2 separate regions of the Homo sapiens genome follow, and region 1 is linked to region 2. Evidence: fine-mapped expression QTL. A gene starts in region 2. The other region holds a variant in brackets. All regions are shown on one strand. Distances are between the middles of the regions.

Evidence for each region. PIP is the estimated chance that this variant, and not a neighbour inherited with it, causes the effect.
Region 1: its variant is fine-mapped to the expression of INSC in whole blood (INTERVAL, PIP above 0.99).

Annotation. Positions count from the first base shown.
Region 1 is chr11:15,226,453-15,238,279 of GRCh38, forward strand. It overlaps INSC (INSC spindle orientation adaptor protein), which reads left to right. Exons shown (of 13, transcript NM_001042536.3): 10 at 9,150-9,216. Among named protein-coding and RNA genes, the nearest start is that of INSC, 120 kb to the left of the region's middle. The variant C/T (reference allele first, on the strand shown) is at 5,575.
Region 2 is chr11:15,108,644-15,120,470 of GRCh38, forward strand. It overlaps INSC (INSC spindle orientation adaptor protein), which reads left to right and starts at 6,280. Exons shown (of 13, transcript NM_001042536.3): 1 at 6,280-6,360. RefSeq lists enhancers at 4,753-4,802, 5,454-5,987.

The DNA of each region.
Region 1 (11,827 bases), 120 kb after region 2:
TTTTAAAGGCTCTTTGAACTCTGATGTTCTAGAATTTTATACCATTTCACCTCTGGCCACACTTGGCCTCCCACATCACCACCAAGGAGTGGGGGTGGTAGATTAGGTGGTCTCTGTAAATTCTTCCCAGTACCTGAGCTCTAAGTTACATGATCCTCTCGTCCTCAACTCAGCTTATCCCTGTCTGCATTTTAGCCCCTAAACCATCACCTCTTCCAGGCTTATCTCTTAACTGAAGCTGCTTTGGTTTCTGTTCCATGCCAGCAGCTGCAGGAAGGCCTTCCCTGATGGTTTCAGCCCTCTGGAATTGCCTCCTTTTCTTAGAATTCATACCTCACAATGCAGTGTTGACTTATCTAATGAGGTTATTCCTCTTAATTATTTCATGTGATTTTCTTCCTCTGAGGGCATGATCCATGTTCCCTAGGATTTTTTAAGGCCTCTAGCCTAGAGCTGGTGCCCTTGGTGAAGTTCCCCAAACTTTGTCAGTTATTTCTTATCCTCAGAATCGCCTGTGAAAGGGCAGCTGACCGTAGAAGCTCCTATTCGGAGATAATTTTCTAGTATCTAAGCATTTGCGTATGAGGGTTCTAATAATACTGTGACACTGGTGATATTTGCCCCATTTTATAGATAAGAATATTTTGGCTCAAGAGGATGTCCCCAAAATTAAATGGTTGGCAGGCAGCTAGCCAGCATTTAAATGAGGATTAAATTTAAATCCTGACTTAGAACTTGATCTTTGACTCTCATCTGCTGTCATCTTTGAAGAAAGGAGGTAGTGCAGCTGTTGAACCACAGACTGGGTGTTGGTCCTGCCTGGGCCATTTATCAATTGAGTGACACTGAGCAAGTCAAAGGCTCCTGGGTGTTGGGTTTTTGCATCTATTAATTGGGACATGAATGTCTATATTGCAGGGTTATTGTGAGGGTGAGTGTAATAAGATATGCAAGGACCTGATGTAAGGCTTAGCCCCTATTAAGTTCTTAATAAATGGTGAATATCATTACTTTTTAAACCTGATGCTCCAAAGAAGAGCATGAGTAGTGAATTATCCAAAATCCTCAACTTGGCCCTCCAAACTATGTATGATATGTATGATTCCAGACTTCCTTTCCAGTCTGATCTTATTACTTCTAAGAGTTGGAGAGGTCCCTGTAGAGAGAAGGTATGACAGTAACAGATAAAGTGGTGACCCCCTGGTTGGCTATTGGCTTGATTGACTCCTGAGGGGGACATGCCCCATGCCTACCATAGACATACCCTTGGTAGTAGAGAGGGAGACAGGAGGGCCCACTTTTTGTGATCCGCCTTACTCATGCTCATGTTCTCTTCAGATAGATACCTCCAGTTGCTGGGTCTTTCATCTACCTGACATAATTTTAGGTTCTTTCACCTTCAAGTGCCTCTCCTGTGGCTGACTCCGGTCATTTCCTACAAGATCCAGTAGTGAGGCAATAAGACAAGGAATTTTGGATTCAGACAACCTGAGTTTGAGGCTTTTTTGCTATTAATAATCATGTCACTTTGGGCAATTCACTCTATGTCTCACTTTCTTAATTTGTAAAATGGAAACAAATAATACATATTTTACAAAGTTGAAATAAGAATTAAATTAATTAATAAATAAATATAAACTCTTGGTACAGACTCTGGCACATAGAAACTGTTAAATCAATGGAAGCCACTGTCAATGTTATTACAATTGGCCTTTGAATGTGTGGCACACAGCATTGAATGGGACCCTCCAGAGAGGAGTCCCCTCATCTGTAAAATGGGCATGACCTCTTCCATCTTGAACATCCTCTGTCTCTATGTGTAGAAGTCCCCTTCTTATCACAAGGAATGACTAGCCCCCTCTTGAAGCCTCACTGAGTCCTAGGAAAAGGAGATCAGGGTAGGGAGAGAATGTGGTTGCGCTGCCAGCAGATAGTTCTCTCTGCACCTGGAGTCGGTACCTTTTCACGTTACTCCACTGTCTGAGCCAGGCACGTCACCCACTGTCCTCAGGATGGCTTCACCTTCTGTCCTGTCTCAGAACAACCACTTAGCTAGTGAAAGTGCACCCATTAAAGAAACAAATGGCTCTTTCCTGTTGCAGTGGGAGGATTAAGGTGATCAGAGGGCTCTCTGTAATGAAGACAAAGAAGATGAATTAGGCTTTGAAGTGCTCACTGCCCCCTAAAATACTTAGGAGATTAAATGCCCCATGAGGCTTCCGGTAATGAATCTGCCAATGACGCCAATGCTGTGTGGAGCCTCTTGGTCTTGGATCTATACAGACTACCTCTGTTTGGACAATGAGAACCCTTCCATCATCCTGGCAAGCCAGGTCCACTTAATTTGTTCAACAGAAGCCTCGTTGGGTATGCCTATCCTGTCGCCACCCTTGGGGTATGGACGTTGGTGAGGGCAGCCTTGGACCTAGGCTCTTCTATACCCTTCAGCTAATCCACAGGAAGGTGGCACGGGCTGCAGCTGACATGGTCAGCCATTGAGAAGCCTGACAAGCAATCTGAATAGTCCTATGTTTTCATGCCCAGGAGGTATTTTCCAGGAGCCATACTGCCCATAGAATCCAGCTACAGATCTGACAGGGGGAGGTAGGAAACGGGCTGCCTCCAAATTTGTTGGTGAACTTCTGGCCTATCCGTCAAGCAGGGACAATCTAGGATGGAAGAGACCTGATTATCTTATCTAATATATAATAGAGATTTTTACTGAGTCTGACTTTTTGTGGCCTTCAGGAATTAACTGCTTTCATAAGGGAAGGAGTGCTAGTATATACTTCCCACAGTAATACCTCATCTGTTTGGCATTTTAGAATGACTAGATTTTGTAACATTTCTGGGACCTCACTGTGAATACCATTTATCAGGGAATGCCAGTCACTAGGGGTTTCATTTTTGTCTCACATCTCAAAATCTCTCTATAGTTTATAAAGCTCTGTCATATACATATATGACGTATTAGAAACAGCACAGGTTTTTAGTTCAGACAGATTTGAGTTCACATTCTGGTTCTGCCATTTCCCAGCTATGTGACCTTGGACAAATCACTTAATCTCTGAGCCACAATTTCCTCATCTGTGTAATGGGGATAATAACATTTGTTCCCTCCCTCATGTCATTATGATGATTAGATGGGATAACGCTCATAAAGTACTTAGAAGCAAAGCGAATACCCAATAATGAATGGGATGGGTTCTCTAACAGAACCAGAGACTGGGATGGGTCGGAGACAGGGAATGTAAGCTTTGGAACAGGAAGGTAGGGTCAGGAAATATAGTTAATGTGGTGGCAATTGTATTGGTCTATTCTCACATTGCTGTAAAGAAATGCCTGATGTAATCCCAGTACTTTGGGAGGTTGAGGCAGGCAGATTGCCTGTGTTCATGAGTTCAAGACCAGCCTGGGCAACGTGGCAAAATCCTATCTCTATAAAAAACATTTTTATATATATATAAATTTTTTATATATTATATATATATAATATTATATATATATTTATATATATATATATATATTATATATATATATATATATATATATATATATATAATATATATATATATATATATATATATAAAAGCCAGGCATGGTGGTACACACCTGTAGTCCCAGCTACTTGGGAAGCTGAGGTGGGAGGATGGCTTGAGCCCGGGAAATGGAGGTTACAGTGAGCCAAGATGGCACCACTGTACTCCAGCCTGGATGATAGAGCCAGACCTTGTCTCAAAAATAAAAATAAAAATAAATTACCTAAGACTGGGTAATTTGTAAAGAAAAAAGGTTTAATTGGCTCATGGTTCTACAGGCTATACAGAAAGCATGAAGCTGGAATCTGTTTGGCTTCTGGAGAGGCCTTAGAAAACTTACAATAATGATGGAAGGCAAAGGTGAAGCAGACACATCGCATGGCAGAAGCAGGAGCAAGAGAGAGTGAAGGGGGAGGTGCTTCACCCTTTTCAACAAGAACTCACTCACTATCATAAGAATAGCACCATGAAGATGGTGCTAAATCATTCATGAAGGGTCCACCCCCATGATCCAATCACCTCCCACCAGGCTCCACCTCTAACATAGGGGATTACAATTCAACATGAGATTTTGGTGAAGACACAGATCCAAAACATATCAGGGATATTGTGTAGTATTGGAGGAATCCAGGATCACAACACCCTGTCCTGACCTGCTCCAGAAACCCTTCCCTACAAAGCCAAGGGCAAACCAAGCACAGAGAATATGGTCTGACTTTTATATGCTCTCTAATACGGTGGGTTTACAGCCCAACATTCATGTAATCCCTGGGGCGAGGGAGCTGGGCCTCACCCAGGAGAGCCCTTCAGCCTGTTTGCCAGCAGCACGGGACCTACATCCAAAACAGTTCTATGGCTTTTATCATGTGGTCTCCTAAGCCTAAATCTTAGCCCACCAGTCTTGCCACTTTAGTAGTAAGGGAAAGCTGGTCCTGTCAATGAGAAGACCCACGTACCAGAGAGAAGAAGCCATCTGCTTGTCTCTGGGTCTAGGTCAGTGCCCTTCTCCTAGTCTGCACACCTGTCCAGCCCTCTCAGGTCCTGCGCCCTGGGCCCTGGGCCATGTCTGCCAGAGGGAGGAAAAGGCTCAAAAGAGAGCAGAAGAGGAGAGGGCTATACCTTCTCCTGGGCTCTCTTGCCTCTCTGGCCTTGGAAAAGAAAGTATTTTCAAAGAGATCCACCTTTCTTCCCTTAGATCCCTTAATTCTACAGATCAATGTCCTTGTCTGGATTCTTTCTGCTCTTTGGTAGAGGAAGTGGTGTGGAGGGAAGAGGGTGGAGAGAAGCACTGGGCTTCCCCTAGAGCAGTGCTATCCAATCTTTTGACTTCCCTGGGCCACACTGGAAGAAGAATTGTCTTGGGCCACACATAAAATACACTAACACTAACAACAGCTGATGAGCTAAAAAGAAAAATCACGCACAAAAAAATCTCATAATGTTTTAAGAAAGTTTACAAATTTGTGTTGGGCCACATTCAAAGCTGTCCTGGGCCACATGTGGCCTGTAGGTCATGGGTTGGACAAGCTTGCTAGAGGCTGAAAATTATTCTGCTTTTTGTTCTCAGGGCTGCAGTTGACATTGTTGCTGCAAATTTCAGAGTTAACACGGTGATAATAGAAATCTAAATATTCATCTGGCAATTAAAGAATAATTCTAATTACAGTCATACAAGCTGTTGGCCTTTTGGTCCTAATTTCTGCACAGCATAAAAGTAATTATAACTTTTCATGAAATATATGCCAGGCTTTCTTTGTTGAAAGTTCTTTAGATCAGAGCACCTGTCTCTACTTGGGTGTCCTGGGTATTCTTCACTTGCCTTGAATGCAGTTTGGTCTTCAGTATTAGTTTCCAGCAAGGGAACACAGGCAGAGTCAGGGTGTGATCAGGGCTGACTGCTGAGACACTGCTAGGATGTGAGGCAGGCCTGGTTCACACCTTGGCATCGGCCTGCAGACAAGTGTTTCTCCTCCGTGTGTGCTGACATCAAAAGGCCTCGCCAACCTCCTTCCTACCTCACAGGGACATTTCTTCT[C/T]GAACCAGTGACATGGGAGGTCCCCTGCTATCCTTGATCAATTTCCTGTCTGCCTCAATTTTCATGTCTTTGGAGGCCAAAGAAAAAATAATTTGAAAATGCCACAGAAGGTAGTGAATACACACTTTGCTGTTCTTCTGATGGGAAGGGTTGACTTGCTCTGGGACAGGCTCACCTTTGGGAGGGATCTCACATTAGCAGCGTGTCTTGGCCACACGGATGCTCAGCCCCCCGAGTGCTGCAGGTTACTTGGCTAGTGTTTCTTGACACAGTCTTTCAAGGCTTGAGTCCTTTCAGGTTCTCCTGCCCAGAGCGAGCCATATTTATTTTATTTAACAAAGGGTGCTTGATATTAACTCATTGAATGCTCATACAGGACTTAAAAGATACCTTTTATTTATTTACTTATTTATTTAGAGACGGAGTCTTGTTATATTGCTCAGGCTGATCTCAAACTCCTGGCTTCAAGTGATCCTCCTGCCTCAGCCTGTGGAGAAGCTGGGATTAAAGGCATGAGCTATGGTGCCTGGCTGAGTTATTTTTATTTCTTGTGGTAGGGCCCCCAGGGATGTCCACATCCTAATCCTCAAAACCTGTGAATAAGTTACTTTATATAGCGACACGGGTTTTCTAGATGCGATTGAGTTAAGATCTTGACATAGGAATGTTATCCTTGATTATCCAGGTGAATCCAGTGTCATCACAGAAGTTCTTGTAAGAGGGAGGGAAGAGGGTCAGAGTCAGAGACTCAAACGTGATTAAGGAAGCAAAGGTCAGAAGGATATACTCCCCTGAGCCAAAGAATGAGAGCAGCCTCTAGAAGCTGGAAAATAGAAACTAGGAAATTGATTTTCCCCTAGAGCCCCCAGAATAAATGAAGATCTGTCAACAACTTGATTTTTGCTATGTAAGACTCATTTAGAACTTCTGACTTCTAGAACTGCAAGATAAAATTGTGTCATTTTAAGCCACTGAGTTTGCGATAATTTGTTATAGCAGCAATAGAAAATGAATACACCAAGCCACAGAAGGTTAGGTAACATGGCCAAGATCATAGCAAAATGTGATAGAGCCAGGATTTAGATGTAGGTTGAGCTACACGCTTAGCTATCACATTATACTGACCTCTCACCTAGGGCCTTTCTCAAGGTGATGTCCTCTGGATTCACCAAACAAATGCAGGGGGAATGGTGCCCTTTCACTTAGGTGGAATAGAACTTAATTGAACATCATCAAACAAGACTGAATTAGCCTGGGTTGGGGAAACTGTCTGCCTGGCTCCTGCACTCTGCCCCCTGACAGCATTGTTAACTTGTATCCAACCAGGTAAAACAGCTGTCCCTAAAATCCCACCCATGGACTTGACTGTGAGGATAAACAGTGACCTCTTTCCCCTCTATGTTATGGTGCACACAAGGATGTTTCACAAGGGGGACTCAAAGCAGGGCATAATTGGCATTTATTCAAATTGTACTTAATTGAATACTTCATCTGCACCTCCAGAAAACCACATGGGGTACAGGCTCTGTAAAGAGGAAGTAATTTTCATTAACAGGATCTAAATTAGTCTGACACAAAGACCTACGTGGTGCCTGTGACACGGCTAATAATTACTGTGTAATGAACCCGTTGCCGCAGACAAAGATTTCCTTTTCTTTTCCTAGTTTGTCCTTCCTTCCTTCCTTTACCTCCCTTCCTCCCTCCTTCCCTCCTTCCTTCCTTCCTCCATGAATCTGCATGTCAAGTAAGTGTTTTTATTCAGAAAGGCCAGCCTGGTGATGGTGGGATGTCTCAGCCCCTGTGTGGTGGAAACAGAGTCCATGCTTTCTGCTAACAGCCCAGAGATAGCCAAACAAACTCTAAACTGACATGGACTTGGCCGTGTACCTCCTCCCTCATAAGAATGTGCACACGATGCCTCTTGGGGAACTTTCCAACCCAGCTTTTTCCTCTAACTCCTTCCACTGAGCCCACAAACGCAATCTTAAAAAGTGCAAAAACAAGTAAATAAATACGTAAAAGAGCCTCTAAGTCCTAAACCTCCTTTAGTCCTATTATTTTCTTAACTGCAAATAGGAGCTAGTCACCCCCTTCTTAAAACACCTGGTGGTACAGAGTTGCTTTCAGGATAAAGGTTCTGGAGTATTCTCCTGTCCTTCCTCTGGCAACCCACTGTAGTCATGCTTATCCAACCAGGCCCCTGATGGGGTCTGAGCTGGGAGGGGTTGTCACACACACAGATGCTGCAGCAGCCAAAGAATGTGGAATCCCCTTCCAATATGTGTTTAGAAGGAAAGGGGAGAGATAGATATTCTATTAATATGGTAAAGTTTTTCCTTTCTGTTTAAAAGAAGACATTTTTAAATGTATTTGTTATCCAGAGTAAAATAGTAATATGTGTTATCCAGAGTAATTAAAATGTAGATAATACTCTTTCTTGGTAGACATAACATTACTATCCAGTTTCAGAATTTTAGCTGCCTGAATTCTACTCAGTAGACTGTCAACTGCTGTCTCAGCGGAGGGGGGACACAGTTTTTGCTTATACCATCCTGCAAGCTTTGAAGAAACCTTTCGAGAGAGAGGCTTGTACCAGTGAGAAGTGTTTTTAAATTTTATTTTATTATTCATTTTAATTACCACTTGAGAGCGCTGTCCATTTCTGTGAAAGTGGGTGAATTTTCATCTTGCTATTTATGTCAGGAGCAGTGTTGTGGGTGGTATCTGAGTTAACAGGTGCCATGTTCCCAATCTATTCCAGTAGCATTTTGGCACCCTTTTGCAGTTTGGGGTCCCTGGAATGAGTCCTCTGTCAGGCCATTCCTTAATCCAGTTTGTGCTGTGAGTTCTTTTCTCCCTTGACTGTACCAGGGGAGGCTGGTTACAACCCACAAAGCTGTAACTGAGACTCACTGTCCACCTGGTGTCAATACCCCATTTCCTACAGGCAGAGACTTTCAGTGATGACTGATAAGCGAGGCTTACCACAGACTTGCAATGTGCAGCTGAGTATGCACTTTCTCATCAGATTCCATGTAATACCCAATGCTTGATAACGCTGCCTCTTCCTACTCATGCCCTCTAACGTGACCTTAGCCTTCATTCATCACAGGTTGAAAGTAGGTGAGGGTTAGTATCCAGGAAAGAAGCTTGGATGGAAGAAGTCAATCCAGAGTAAGAGCTAGCTGTCAGGAGGACAAGCCAGCACAGAGGAGTTTCAGGGGCCAGGGACCTGCTGGTTCTGTCTGCATTTCAGGACTGGGGACCAGAGCAGAAAGACAACCGGGCCCCAACTTCACCCAGGGTTATGCTAGTCTTTCCAGGGTGTCCTGGGGCCCTTGGGGGCCGTCCTATAGCCATAGGCTGATAAATGGGCATTAGTCACCGGGGAAATACATCTGGGTGGCAGGAGCCCATAAGGATGGAAGAAAATGCCGTGGAAGGATAGGCCCGGTGGACAGGAAGGAGTCACGGGATAAAAGGAAGCTTTGTAGCCCCTGGCTGACCTGTCTGTAGGGAGGACTATTAGGATCAGGTGTGCTCATTTTCTGAGGTTTCTAAATTATCTTTTCCAGATTGTGACCATCTTGGCAAACATGTCTGTCCTAGAACAGTGTGCCTCTGACATCATTCAGGAAAATGGTATGTCTTTGCAGCATTGTACATGTTATGTGGATTATCTGGATGTAGGGGACTGTGTCTTTGTGCTTGTGTGAATGCCTGTGCAGGTATGTAAATAGGTACATGTGGCCGGGCGCAGGAATCATGCCTGTAATCCCAGCACTTTGGGAAGCAGAGGTGGGCGGATCAACTGAGGTAAGGAGTTCGAGACCAGCCTGAGCAACATGGTGAAACCCTGTCTCCACTAAAAATACAGAAATTAGCTGGGTGTGGTGGTGGGCGCCTGTAATCTCAGCTACTCAGGAGGCTGAGGCAGGAGAATCACTTGAACCTGGGAGGCGGAGGTTGCAGTGAGCTGAGATCACGCCATTGCACTCCATCCTGGGCAACAGAGCGAGACTCTGTCTCAAAAAAAAAAAAAAAAAAAAAAATAGGTACACGTGTCTCCATGCTTGCCTGAGCATATATGTGTGTGCTTGTATGTGTGCAACTGGGTCTATATATGTGAATATTTGTTTGCTTTTGTGAGGCCTAAATTCTAGTGGAAGACAGATAATGTATAAGAAGATAGCAAATGTCCAGCAATAATAGCGTGACAGTGCCCCGGGGAAAATGAAGCAGGGAAGAAGAGTAAGGTAGTCTCAGGGTGGGGGGGTGGTGGTTGCTATTTTAATAGGGTCATGAGGAGAAGGCAAATATTTCATTATGATCCTCAAATAAAAAAAATCTATTCCTACCAAGGGATACATTCCAACTTTAAATTGTTCCTATCTTATTGGATTTGGCCACAGTAGAAAGCTGAGGAAGGGGTGAGAATGGGAGAGCAGGTCAGGGCAACCTGAATGTCTTGAGCCCTCACTGAGTGCATCTCTTCTCCCACTTGCTCCCTTGTTCCATCTTGTGCTGAACATGTCACCAAGGTCCAGGTGGGGTGGGCCAGGTTTCATTGGCCTGGAAGCTGATCTAAGCTGTTTCTGCCAAAGGACAAGGTGGTGGCTGCCTTGCAGCTGGGAGCAGAGATGGTGAGGGCTTCCTGTGACTGGGAAATAAGGGAGCAATTAGCAACCGGTTGGAAACCAGAGACGCTAATGAGGCGGAGTGAGCTGGGAGCCTGTGCCCGCTGCCTCTGCTCTTGCTAAACCCCCTTCTCCCAGGCTTCCCTGCTGTCTTAACAAACATACACTTTCCCATCCCCCATTGCTCTGTTACTAATTGAAGGACATCATTTTGTGTTAATTTTATGTGATTGAGCTAATAATGAGAAACTTTGCTGAGCCAGCTGAGGCCATGAAGCTGAGCTACTGCATCTGTGCTCCGTTCTTTCGGTACTTATAGAGCCTTACGTTGAAGTGTTCAGTGGGAGTGGGTCTCCATAGGCCTGTGAATTTGAGATTGGAATATCTGGCATCTGTAGAGGGTTTTATGGTTCACAAAGTGCTATTGACTGACTGAATCAGTAAACAGTTATTGAGACCTAATATGTGCCTGGCATTGTGCTAGACAATGAGAACAGAGATAACTAAATCCCTGTCTTTGTCCTAGAGGATCTCACAGTCTAGACAGAGAGCACAACTTAACAAAAGTGACATATGATAAAAATATAACATCTACAATAGAATAATGCAACAGAGGGAGGTTGGCATGGTGGTTGAGGTTGAAAACTGGAACCATACTCTGTGGGTTTGAATCCTGGCACTGTTGTTTACTAACCATATGACCTCTCTGTTTTTTCATCTGCAAAATGAGAATAATCCCTACCTCATAAGGATGTTGTGAGGATTAACATGAAGCACGTTAGAAGATTGTCTGGCACAGAATGAGCACTATGCTAAGCCCCCCTGCTCTTTCAGGAAACAGTGGCAGTCTCACGGGGTTTACCTGAAGAGAGTTTAATGAAGGAGCTATTTTCCAAAGCAGGGCAGGATTTGAGGAATCAACAATGGTGTCAATGCAACTGGTGTCTACTGGAAGACAGGCCTCTAAGGTCTGGACAGGGCAAATCTTGTTGTGCAGACTGGGCTTTGAGAGTCCATGGTCTAAATAACAGGTTGCAAACTTAGATGCCTACAAAACTCAGACAGGTAATGTAAATGGACGAGGCGAGCTCACCAGAGACAGGATCAATCTCTTTTAAAGAAGGAACTCATAATAAGCTTTAACAATTTGTTGTGCAGAAATGAGGTCCTAGGGTTAAAATTCAGGAGGCAGTTTCAGAAGTCAGAAATCTAGATTTTTATAGAAATCCTCCAGTTAGCACACTATCAAAAATCTAAAAAATTGTAGACACTATATGGGGCAACAAAACAAAGCAAAACTATATCCTTGGGTCATGTCTGGCTTAAGTTCTAAGCTGGCAGGAGCCACTGGGTGCAGAAGAGGGGAGTGTGGGATGGGCAGTTGGGCAACAGCTCACACAGAAGATGAACTTTTGCTACAACCTGCAGGGTGGAGTTTTTTAGATGGAGCGTCAAGAGGGAAAATGGCATCCCTTGTAGAAAGAAAGAGTGGGTAAAGGCAAGGAGGTATGAGCGGACATGGGTATGGTTTCTAGAACAATCAGAAGACAAATCTGGTTTCAGGGAGAGGTAGGAGGCTTCTCAGCAGAGATTATTCGGTTGAAAACTCTCAGTCT
Region 2 (11,827 bases):
CTCTAAATTCAAGGAAGAGATTATAGTTAAGGTTTGGGAAGGGCAAGGCAGCCTTGGAATTTATTTTCTGCTGTCCAGGGCACTCTGGTCAGGTAGTTCAAATTCTAAATGCTGATAAGAAGTAATCTATTTGGCTCACAAGCAACAGGACTTTCCTACCCTCCCCCACGTAGCCAATAAGCCTCAGCAGGTATTCAGTGGAGCAGACGTATACAGGACAGGGTCAAGTAAAGAGGCAGGGCTGCTCCCCAGCTCCCACCAACCTGAACTGAGCAGCTTACTACAGAGGCCATGACTGGGATTCTTCCCCTGCCTGGGCCTCAGTTTTCTTATCTGTACCATGAGGGGTTTGGGTTAGAACTTCATCACTAGATTAGTGTTTCTCAAAGTTGGCCTGCATCATAATTTCTTGGGATGCTAGAAAATAGAGACCCACAATGTCCCATGGTGTGCTACTAAGTGATCAACAACAGGCTTTCCAAAACAAAACAAAACACAACACCCTAATTTATAGCGTTTGCTCAATTTCTGTAGTGTAAATAAATACTTCTACCTTGGTCAAGTTCAAGCTAACAATGTGAAGTCACTGAACGTCACTCGGGAAGAGAGGTGCATGTGGGCTCCAGCACACCACCCACCTACTGACTCAGAAACACTGAGGGAGGCCTTGGACTCTGCATTTTGCCCCCCTTCAGGTGATTTTAGTGGATCGTAAAATTTCAGAACCCCTGCATCCAGAGATCTCTGAGGGCTTTTCTGTCCCTTCTGTCTCTCCATTCTAATTATATTACAAGTTCTCACACTGGCTTTGGGAATTGGGGATCATTTTCCTTCTTGTAAGAATTGCAGAGCAAGGCCTGGAGAGATAGATGCCATTGCCCAAGTGAGTTAATGATGCATCTGCACCAGCCTGTCTGGTACTCTGTCTCCTTGTCCTCTGTGAGGGCCCTATCTCTCCATCCTGGGGGCAGGGCAGCATCTTGATGTGCACGTCTCAGGGGGATACTGGAGGTTGCAGCTGTGGATACTGGGACCCATGCCCATTGCTCATCTCTAAGGGTGGGGCTGGATTTCAGCTGCTATCACTATGACCTTTTGATCTCTTATCTCCATCCCTGGAACTGAGAGCCTGCCTGGCCATCGCTATTTTTGTGCAGGTCCCTCATCTTGATAACTTCTCTGTGCAGATAGAGGACAGAGTGGAGGATGCTGTTTTTTGTCTTGAGGTGTGCTGGGGCAGAGAGAGCCATGACAGAGCCCATGAAAGACCCACCAATAGATGGCAGGGGTGACACAGAAGTTGGGAAGAGAAAAGTTAGGCAAAAAAGTGTACAAACTACTGAAAAGGTTAAAAATTCTTTTTTTTTTTTTGAAAGTGTCCTACTCTGTTGTCAAGGGTGGAGTGCAGTGGTGTGATCATAGCTCACTGTAACTTTGAACTTCTGGGATCAAGCAGTCTTCCTCCTATCCTCCTGCCTCAGCCTCCTGAGTAGCTGGGACCACAGGTGCACACCACTTTTCCTGGCTAATTTTTTATTTTTATTTTTTTTCAAAGATGAGGTATAGCTTTGTTGTTTAGGCTGGTCTTGAACTTTTAGCTTCCACTTATCCTCCCACCTCAGCCTCCCAAAGTGGTACTGGGATTACTGGTGTCAGCCGCTGCTCCTGGCCCAGGATTGTACATTTAAGGAGCTTTCAGAAGAGATCATCTTTATGCTGTAATTAGGTTGGAAATTTAGTTTTGAACTGGAATCATCCCTGACTTTCTCTTATTCTAGAGAGTAGTGGTTCTCAAAGCATGATCTCCAGATCAGTAGTATCAACATCACCTGGGAACTTTTTAGAAATGCAAATTCTTCAGCTCAGAATATCTCCCCATCTTAGAGCTATTGCCTGAATCACCATGATTCCTTATTCATTTGTGGAGATTAAGCACTCCTCCCTCAAAAAACTCTTCCAATGCTGGTGCCCCATGGGACTGCCATGCTGGGCTATGTTCTCTGACTACAGGGTGGATGAGCTTGTGACAACAGAAACAGTTGGGGAATTCTGGGTTGGGGATAGGGGAAATCACAAGAGACAATAGAGACTACCCTGGCTATAACAGGCCTTCTTAGGCACTTTCTATTGTGGCTGCTTAGAAGGAGGCCTGAGGCCAGCACACATCCTGCCCCTTGGAGATACCTAGCATAGCATGGCAACTTCAAGCAGTGGATAAGCTCCTGGCGGACTGAACTCTTTGGATCTCTCCTGCATGTCTGTCCTCTCAACTCTCTGGACTCAGGACTTCATTGCCTGTCCCAAAAGGAAAAGGACTTTTCTGCCCTCCCCTACGTGGCCAATAAGCCACAAGAAGTATGTGGTGGAACAAATGCAGGAGAGGGTGGAGTGGCCTGGCCCCAATCCCTGTCTCCTCTCGTTCCACCAGGGTTTTGCCATCTTCCTACAGTATAACTTCAACTCCCTCGGGCAACACGTGCTCTGCTCTACCCAATGCTTGGGCTCCTGTGCCAGGCCTTGTCCCAAGGGCCCTGTTTATATTCATCTGGGCCTGAAGGACAGGATCCTAGCATTGGAGGCTGGTCAGTGCTCAGAGCCTCGGAGGTGCTCCCTCCTTGGAAGTGCGATCCCTTCAGAAGAGTGTAGCTGAGGCTTCTTTCAGTGACTATCTAGGGAATACTGGGGGAACAATTTGGAGCTGAGGCTGGGGGTTGACTATGAACCTGGCAGACTGCAGTGTAAACCTGAAGTCTTTCCTCCATTTAGGTCTGAACTTGTCCTTCCTAAAGTGATGTGTGAAGCTGGTGGATCTGGGATAGGCCATCTGGACAGGAGAAGAATGTGGAGTCAGGCTGGAGGGGACCTTTGCCTGATACAGCTCTGGACCAGTCCTGAGGCGCCTACTTTGGTTTAGGTGAAATAAGCTATTTGTGGGTACACCTCTGAGCATGTGCATGTGTCTTTACCTGTGTGTCTTTCTGTGCATCCATAAGGATTCCCATGTGTATTTGTGTAGAGTCTCCATCTCACCAGCTGTGAGGCCACAGACAGGTGATTTAAACCACCTGGCCTCCCTTTTCTGTGTCTGTATTATGGGGATAATAATAACTTTTATAAAAGGTTACTATGGCAGCAAAATGAAACATGCACATAAGCTTCTTAGCACAGTTCCTGGTGCTCATGTGTTAGGCTGTTATTATCAATGTCTTGGGTAAGTTACTTACTGAGGCCCTCCCTGGGCCTCAGTTTCTTCATGTGTAAAATAGGGATAATACCAGAACCTAGTACTGTTCTAAGGATTAGAGCAATTGATACCTATGAAGTTCTCGTATATGCAATAAATGTTAATGATTAGAATGTATATTATCTTTGTGTCTGGATGTGTCTGGATGAGAATATCTGAGTTTGTAAATGTCTCTGAGCATGTCTTGCTGCTGGTGTGTGTATACACACATGTATATATGTGTTTAGGTGTGTTTATATAGCCAGACAGGCCCAGTCTCTCTGGTGGAGTTTGCTGTTGGCCCAAGCCTGGACTCCCTGAGCCAGCTAGGGCCGGCGCCGGGGATGGAATTTCCATTAAGAATTAAGCAGGACAGCACAGCATTGAGAAGTCAGGCAGACAGAGGGGAGGGGGTCGAGGGGGAGGAAGCTTCAACTCTGAGCTCCCTTGGGCAGCCTCAGTACTGAACTGCCTTGGACAAGCTTTGCCTTGAGTCACAGGCCTTCTCAGGGCCATGGCCCAGAAGGGTGGGCAAAGGGAAAGAAGCTGTTCACAGGGGCCTCTGTAAGGAGACTTGGAGTCGCTGCAGCCAAGGCTGGAGCCATGAGACGGCCCCCTGGCAATGGAGAGGCGGCCAGCGAAGGTCCAGGTGGCTGGGGTCTATGGGGAGTCCAGGAGTCCAGGAGGCTGTGCTGTGCCGTATGTATCTGGGAAGGTGGATGTGAGTGTGTGTGTGTGTGTGTGTGTGTGTGTGTGTGTGTGTGTGTGTGTATTGGGAAGTGGGGGGGGGGCATTTATGCCAAGTGCCTCCAGGGAACATCTAACAAACCAAGTCTGTTCCTCTCTTACCCTGAAACCCAGACACAGAGTTTGGGCCTGGAAATAAAAGAACTTTGAGGCTTTTTTGCTAACATCGATCTGTTTATGATCTAAGCCTCATTCTATTTCTAGCATATAATAAAATATCTTAGTTTTCCAGGTGCTTTACATCCTTGACCTCACTTCATACTTTCAACAACCTCATGAGCTGGGCAGAGATTTTTATGTTCCCCAATGTACATATGGGAAAACTGATGCTCAGAGAGGTTAAGTGATTTGTCCAAGGACTCATCACTAGAAAGTAGTAGAGGCAGGATGCAAAACAGGTTTCTTTGAGGAAGAATTGGAGACTTCTTTCCTTCCCTTCCTTTCCTTCCCTCTCTTCCCTCCCTTCCTTTCTTCCTTCCTTCCTCTTTCTTTCTTTTCTCTCTCTCTCTTTCTTTCTTTCTTTCTTTCTTTCTGTCTCTCTCTCTCTCTCTTTCTTTTTTGATGCAATCTCACTCTGTTGCCAGGCTGATGTGCAGTGGCACAATCTTGGCTCACTGGCTCACTGCAACCTCCGACTCATTGGTTCAAGCTATTCTCTTGCCTCAGCCTCCTGAGTAGCTGGGGTAACAGGCACATGACAACTCGCCCAGTTAATTTTTGTATTATTAGTAGAGATGGGGTTTCACCATGTCGGCCAGGATGGACTTAATCTCCGGACTTTGTGATCTATCCACCTTGGCCTCCCAAAGAGCTGGGATTACAGGCGTGAGCCACCACTCCCGGCTGAGACTATTCTTATCATACCACCTGCCCTACCGGAAACAGACTCAGAGAGAAGATTCTGCAAACAGTCTGTAAGACTGTGGTTTCAGTGGTAATGCCCAGCCAGGCGGCACCAAGCCCTGTCCCCAGCCCTAGACAGCACTTGTTGAAACAGGAACTGAGGCCCCTCTCAGGGAACTTGGGGAGTAGAATCAGGCTGTTCTGGATGACTGGAGGGTAGAGTTGAAGCTGGCTTGTCTGAGAGGAATGATTTGGCCACCTTCTGAGCCCTGGGCCCCCAGAGAGCTGAGGAGGAGAGTTAATATCAGAGAGCTACTGTGTGTGTTCGAGTCCAGGGAGCAGCAGTTAGCTTCAGCCAGAGCCTGAAAAAAGAAATAGAGATTATTAGCATTAAGGAAGAGAAGGCTGCAGTGGGACCTCGGCGTGGTCGTTTTGTCATGGGGACTGAGTTGAGCTCCTTCTCCCTGAATACATATTGTGAGCAAATTGACATAGTTTGCATGTGAGAGATTTAGGTTAGATGTCAAGGAGATCTTTCTGTCAGTAAGAGAGTTCAAGCTTTGGAACAGGGCTCAAGGGAGACCAGGGGCTGCCTTTGCTTGAGGACCTCCAAGAATAGGTCAAGATTCTCTGGGCTCTGGGAGCCTCATAGCAAGATGGCGGAGGCGGGGGAGGGGGAGTTGTATGAAATGATCTGGAAGCTTTCTTCCAGGTCAAAAATGCCACATTCCCGAGCTTTTGGGTAGGAATCAAGTTCCTCTAGATTTAGCTATTTGACAGAGTCCAGGACGGGGGTGGGGGGTGGGGGGTGGGGTCTGATCTTATGTGCCGAAGTTAGAAGGAGTTTCTGCAACAACCCCTCGTCATTTTTGGCAGGTCCAAGATGTGGAGGGTGACTTAGGTGTGTGTGAGCAAGGTTCCAGAGGGAAGCACCTGCGGTGAATAAACCGTCTCATTCTAGGCGTTTGGGGTCTATCAAAGCTGGGTGGCTTCCTCCTTCCTAGCAAGTGAACTGCACCCAAATCCCTCCTTGTTTTGTTTCAGCTCCAAGGGAAACGATCGCGGCACATTCCCTTCCCCTCTCCAGATGTTGGCATGCGGGGCACCTTGTGGGCGACCCCGCCTGGACGGCTTCGCGGCTCCCGGGCGATCACCCTGGTGCCTGCCGCCTGGCCCGGGGGAGCCCGGTCTCTAATTAGGCCTGACCGCGTCCCCATTCCAGCGCTCCTGCAGATGGGAGGGAGGGCCATGTTTCCCCCCCCAGGGGCACCGAAATAGCCTCGTAGTCCCGCGGAGACAGCAGGCAGCCGTGGCTGACGCGGGACCAAGGCTTGGCAGGGAGCGCGCTGCTGTGGAAGGTCCTTGGGAGGCTGCGACCGCCTCGGAGAGGGCGGGCGGGGGAGAACGGGGCGGGGGGTGGGGCGGGGGCCAGGGGCGGCCTCTCGGGCTGGGCCGGCAGAGCGGCCACTTTGCGCGCGGCCTCTGGAGCTCCAGCTGCGCCCCGCCACCACTGGCCGCTCGCACTACCAGCCTGTCTCGCACGCTAAGTAAGTAGACAGCTCCCCTAGCTGGATTCAGGGGGCTGGTGATGCCTCTGCTAGCCTAGTTGGGAACAGTGCAGGTTTGTCACTAATTGGATAGTAGGTGTAAGTGTGTCAGTGGGAGTGCTTGTGAAGGGGAGCTTGCGCCAGTGTGAGGGAGTGTGTCTGGATGGGATGTCCACATGTGGAATTTTCTAGCATGTGCCCCAGGGTGCGAGTGTGGGTGAACGAGTGTGTCAGAGTGTGTGGTGGCCTGGAGTGGGCCACAGGTATTTGCCTGTGTGGCACCTGCTGCCCTGGGTGCACTGTGTCTGTACCTGTGGAAATGCCTGTGTGTGTGGCAGGAAGGCCCCCAGGTGGGCTGAGCCAGTCCACATGTGGATGAGTGGATGTGCCAGTGTGAACCCAGGAAGGCAGAAATTGGGGCTAGGGAGTGTTATCTGAACTCAGGCTTTCTAAGGTGACCTGACTTGTCCCAGCTGGGGTGTCTTCTCTGTGGGTCATTCAGCTTTGGTTTCTCAGGGCTTGGAGAAGGACAGAAGCTCAGAGCCCTCACACAACACTGGAGTGAATGTGGCTCTGACTAACCCCATCTGGCTAGACCAGGGTCAGGGAGACAGCTTGGGAGACCCCACTCTTAAACCAGGAGAAGAGACAGGAGGCCAGGGGATGAGTGGACCATATGGCCATGGCCACCCACAAACACTCGCAGTGCACCCACGCTTACATGCTCAGCATACACACATTCCTGTCCATGTGCACCAGTCTTGCACACACTCTTCTCAGGATAGCCATGCAACCATTCACACTTTCAACATGTATACCTGTGGACAACGACATGTATGCAACATGCACCCACTTTGTTCAATGCATATGCGCAAATGTATCCCTGGTGTGGCCCCACCCTCAGCCGCTAGCCTCCTCCCACTTTTGCCCCTTTTAATCTATATATTATACCTCTGACAATGGGTCCAAGAAACTGGCCTCAGTGGGGAATATTTTAAGTCAGGGACTTTGGCTGTGGGGGTCAGGGCAGATGGTGATGTGGTGCCTTTGAGGGGTTCCATTGAATCTGAAACTGAGGCTGTCCATGGAGCTCAGCCAGAGAGCATCTTGTCCCTTTAGCTCTGGGACTTAGAAGCACTGTTCGCCCTTTTAGAAGTGAAAACTTCCAAACACTGCCTTTGGAAGGCAAGCCAGGTCAGGCTGGGATCTGACATGGAGCTCAGCATATATAATTTGCTCCATGCTGTAGTTTATACTCTGGATTACACTTGCTGCAGAGAAGCAGTGACCTTTCTGGGTTGGGTCCCAAGGCAACCATTTGGCAGGGAGGACAGTGAATTGAGCTGGGTTGATTCTTTCTCTTCTTTGGTTTCGTTCAACCCTACTTTGAGTCTCCCTCCCACAGGCTGGTGGAGGGATGGCATTTGCTCTGCTCCTTTCCTTTCTTCCAGTGGTTATCTTTTTTTCTGGACAGAATCTTCTCCATGACCTCCTCCCCCTGGTGACCACTGGGCACACACTATACAGCGCTTGGAAGAGTAGGTGCCCTAAAATACCAGCTGAGTGGTGGTGTTATTCTTCTTAGTAGAGCTTCTAGACCTGTCCCATCCTGGCTATTCTCTTCTGAATACTTCAGTGAGGTACCCAGACTAAATGTGCTCTTTCAGCTGGGAAGTTAGAAAGATGGTATTGAGCTTCCTTCCTTCCCTTCCTTTCTTCCTTCCTTCTCTTTCTCTCTTTTCCTTCCTTCCTTCCTTCCATTCTTTCTTTTTTTCTTCCTTCCTTTCTTTTCTTTTCTTTCTTTTCTTTCTTTCTTTCTTTCTTTCTTTCTTTCTTTCTTTCTTTCTCTCTCTCTCTCTCTCTCTCTCTCTCTCCCCCTCCCTCCCTCCCTCCCTCCCTCCCTCCCTCCCTCCCTCCCTCCTTCCTTCCTTCCTTCCTTCCTTCTTTCCTTCCTTCTTTGATGGAGTCTTGCTCTATCGCCCAGGCTGGAGTGCAGTGGCATGATCTCAGCTCATTGCAACCTCTGCCCCCCGGATTCAAGCGATTCTCCTGCCTCAGCCCCTGAGTAGCTGGGATTATAGACCCCCACCACCATGCCCAGCTAATTTTTGTATTTTTAGTAGAGATGGGGTTTTTCCATGTTGGTCAGGCTGGTCTTGAACTCCTGACCTCAGGTGATCTGCCTGCCTAGGCCTCCGATACTGCTGGGATAACAGGTGTGAGCCACCATGCCTGGCCTGAGTTTCTTCTTTCTTAGTGTTTATGGTTTAGTCTAAGGGGTGACTAAGCTCTCACCCACCAACTCCTCTAATATGCAGGAGAGCAAGTTGGGTTCAACCATTTTTTGAGGGGAATGCTGGGATCTAGCTTCTCTTTGGCCTGATCCTACACCTGACCCTTGGGAATGGTTAAAAAAGGGCAGGCTATGGTCAGTCCAGCAGAATAAAGGTGGCAGGGGAAGGAATTATTTTCCCATTGTGCTTCCCTTGTCACTCTGCTTGCTGGGAAGCTCTTAGTCCATCATATGGCTCTGTTGTAATAACTATGTTAGTTGGAACCATTGCTTTGACTTCTAATTTCTGCTTTATCAACTTTATAGAATACATATTTTTAACTGTAAACTTCCACATCCTTTGTTGAAGGAAATCAGAACAAATAAATGAAAAACCAGCAATTAAGCATTCTATTGGTCTCTGGGGATGGGAATCACACTGGATTTTCCTGGGACATCCTCAATTTCAAATATGTCATCTGGTTTTCAACTCATATGTCTCAATTTGGCTTCTGTACCTTTGAACTCTAATTGGTGACGATGTCTTGGAGGTTTTTTTCCTAGTAGCTCTGGGACATAATGCCCATCTCTGTGCTGGCTCAGACAAGGGGGATAGTTGAGAATGAATTGGGCCATTGATAAACACCCCCTGCTCCGAGTGTTTCAGCTGCCAGCTCTTCCCTGTCTCAAAAGCTCAAGTGTCTGGGTGCCCGAAGGAGTTTGACCCTTGCCCTAAGCCTGGCCCTGGCCCCGCAGCCACCCCTTCCTCATGTGACCCTGCCCAACTCAGGGCTCTCTGTGTCTCTTGGATCTGAGCCCTCCCCCAGTATGGAACACAACATCTCTGATCAGGGATGGCCCTTGTGGAACTGGAGCTTGGGATGGGGAGCTTGGACTTAGGAGTGTGGAGGAGCACATGAAGGGCTTTACTGCCTCCTTGCCTGGGTCTGTGAGGCTAAGTGGTCAGGGAATCATTTGTCACCTCTTATCTGCAGAGGTGCACCTCATCTGAATGCAGGGCAGGGTTCTAGCCACATTGCAAAGTTGGTGAAACTTCTAATTCACTCCAAGTCAAATTATTTTATGCTGCCCAAGACCACTCATGTTTGGAAAGGAGAAAGCTGGAGGGTAAAGCTTAGCAACAAAGAATGATTAGAATAACTTGAATGGTGGGCTTTCAGGCATTGCATTGAGGTCCTGCTTCTCATTATATCTTATGTCAACCCAAGCTGGTGGCCATTGCCTGCCTTCAAGATATATCCTCCCAGAAGCATTTGATCACAAGGTAGGAAAGAGGAAATCCCCTGTGGCCTGGTACTGAGTAATGTGCTGGTGGCTTGGTATGGGTGAGGTGTTTTTTCCTTCCCAGAAAAGTGTTATCTTAAAAAGGTAAGACTAAGACTGGACCACATCTCTGCTGAATTTTCACACTATTTAGACTCTGGTTGTCCCCTGGGCTTTAAGCTCAACCAAGTGAAAACAGGCTTAAAAGCCAGTAAGAGCATTGTGTGAGATAGTTAGGACTTCTGTGCAGGAAAGGTAACTCACAGTAACTCACTTTTATTTATTATTGACTACTGTCCAGCTTCCTTTTTAGGCTCTTTCCATCTTTTGTTTCATGAAACCTCTATACCAACTCTATGAAATAGTGAAGACTATTTTAAATATAAGGAAACAGAAACACAGCAAGGCTAAACAACTAGCCCAAGGTCAGAGCTAGCAAAGATTCCTTTCCAGATCTGTCTAACTCCAGAGTGTGTAGTGAATGTCCACTGACCACGAGAGATGCCGGCAACTCCCTCATTTCAAAGGCTTTCAAAGCAGAAAAAACTACTCCTTTGGGCAAATTGGGGAATGAGGCTAAGGGGCTTGACTTCTCTGTCTGTCTCCAGGACCTCAACGTGATCAGCATCATTGGCCTTTCCAGCCTCAGCTGGAGACTGTTGCTGTGTGAGAAGCAGGGATTGAAGGGGTGGGAAAGGCCTCCTGGGTTGTGTGGGGATCTCTCCCTCTGTCTTTCAACCCCCCACCAACATGCAGTGGGCAGTGTTGAACTTCTGTGCCTTCACTTCTCCATGGAGCAACCTCTGTCCTGGGAACCAAGCCTCTGCCCAGACTCTGCGATCTGGCCGGTCTGATCTCCCCTCCCCCAGCTCCAGGGTCCCCTCAGTGCCAAGCTCTGGGGGAGTCTTGGATGCTTTGAGGATGTCTTGGGGCAGATCAGACTCTGTTTGGTGTGATGCAGTGTCTGTAGGCGTCAGCAGTTTGGCTGGGTAGTTGTGTATACTGTTCACTTTCTGCTGGAGAAATGAAGGTTTTGTCTTACAAACCAAATATTCTGGGTTTGGAAACCATGTGAAATGTGGCCTGTGGTTGGAGGGTGTAAGCTACGTTGTGGGCCTGTGTGTGGTGCTGGATTTAAAGACACTGTTGAGGGACAGAACAATTGGCTCAGGCCATCTCACTTCTTTTGATGGAGGGTCAGAGGTGGGCGGTACATACTGGCAATGTGCGGAAAAGAGTGCACGGGCTTTGCAGCCAGACAGATCTGACTTGGAGCCTCAGTTTCCTCATCTGTAAAATGGGGTTCCTCATAAGGCAATGTGGTGCTTGAACTGGAAAGTTTATTTGAAATTCAGTGTCTGGCATAGAATAGGCAAACCATAAAATGCAATATCCTTCTTTCTTATGCCACCCACTTTCTGTGAAAGAACACCGGCCTAATTGGCACAAGATCTGGATTCCAGCTCTGACTCATCCTTGGGCACACTGTGTTATCTTGGGTTAAGTCACTTACCTTCTCTGAGCCTCCCTTTCCTGGTGCATAAAATGAGAGAACTCATTTCTCTCACTTCTCTGCATTTTCTGAGGATGATGAAAGAGACTAAAGTTAAGGGTTCTCTTGGAAGATCCAGAAAGTACAACCAAAACTGATTCATTTATTCATGCCTCAGTATTAATTGAGATCATTTGCTGTGCCAGGGTCTGTGCAAGGCGCTGGGGGTAGAGGTAAGTAGGAATATCCCGGGCTTCAAGTAGCAATCAGACCTTATGGCAAGGCAGACTTGTAAACAAATAAAGGCCTGTCTGTGGGGCATGATCAAATCAGGTACTAGAGGCACTAATGTAGCAGCAAGGAAGTGTTGTCTCCAACTGGGGCAGTCAGAAAGGCCTTCCCGAAAGTGTAAGTACTTG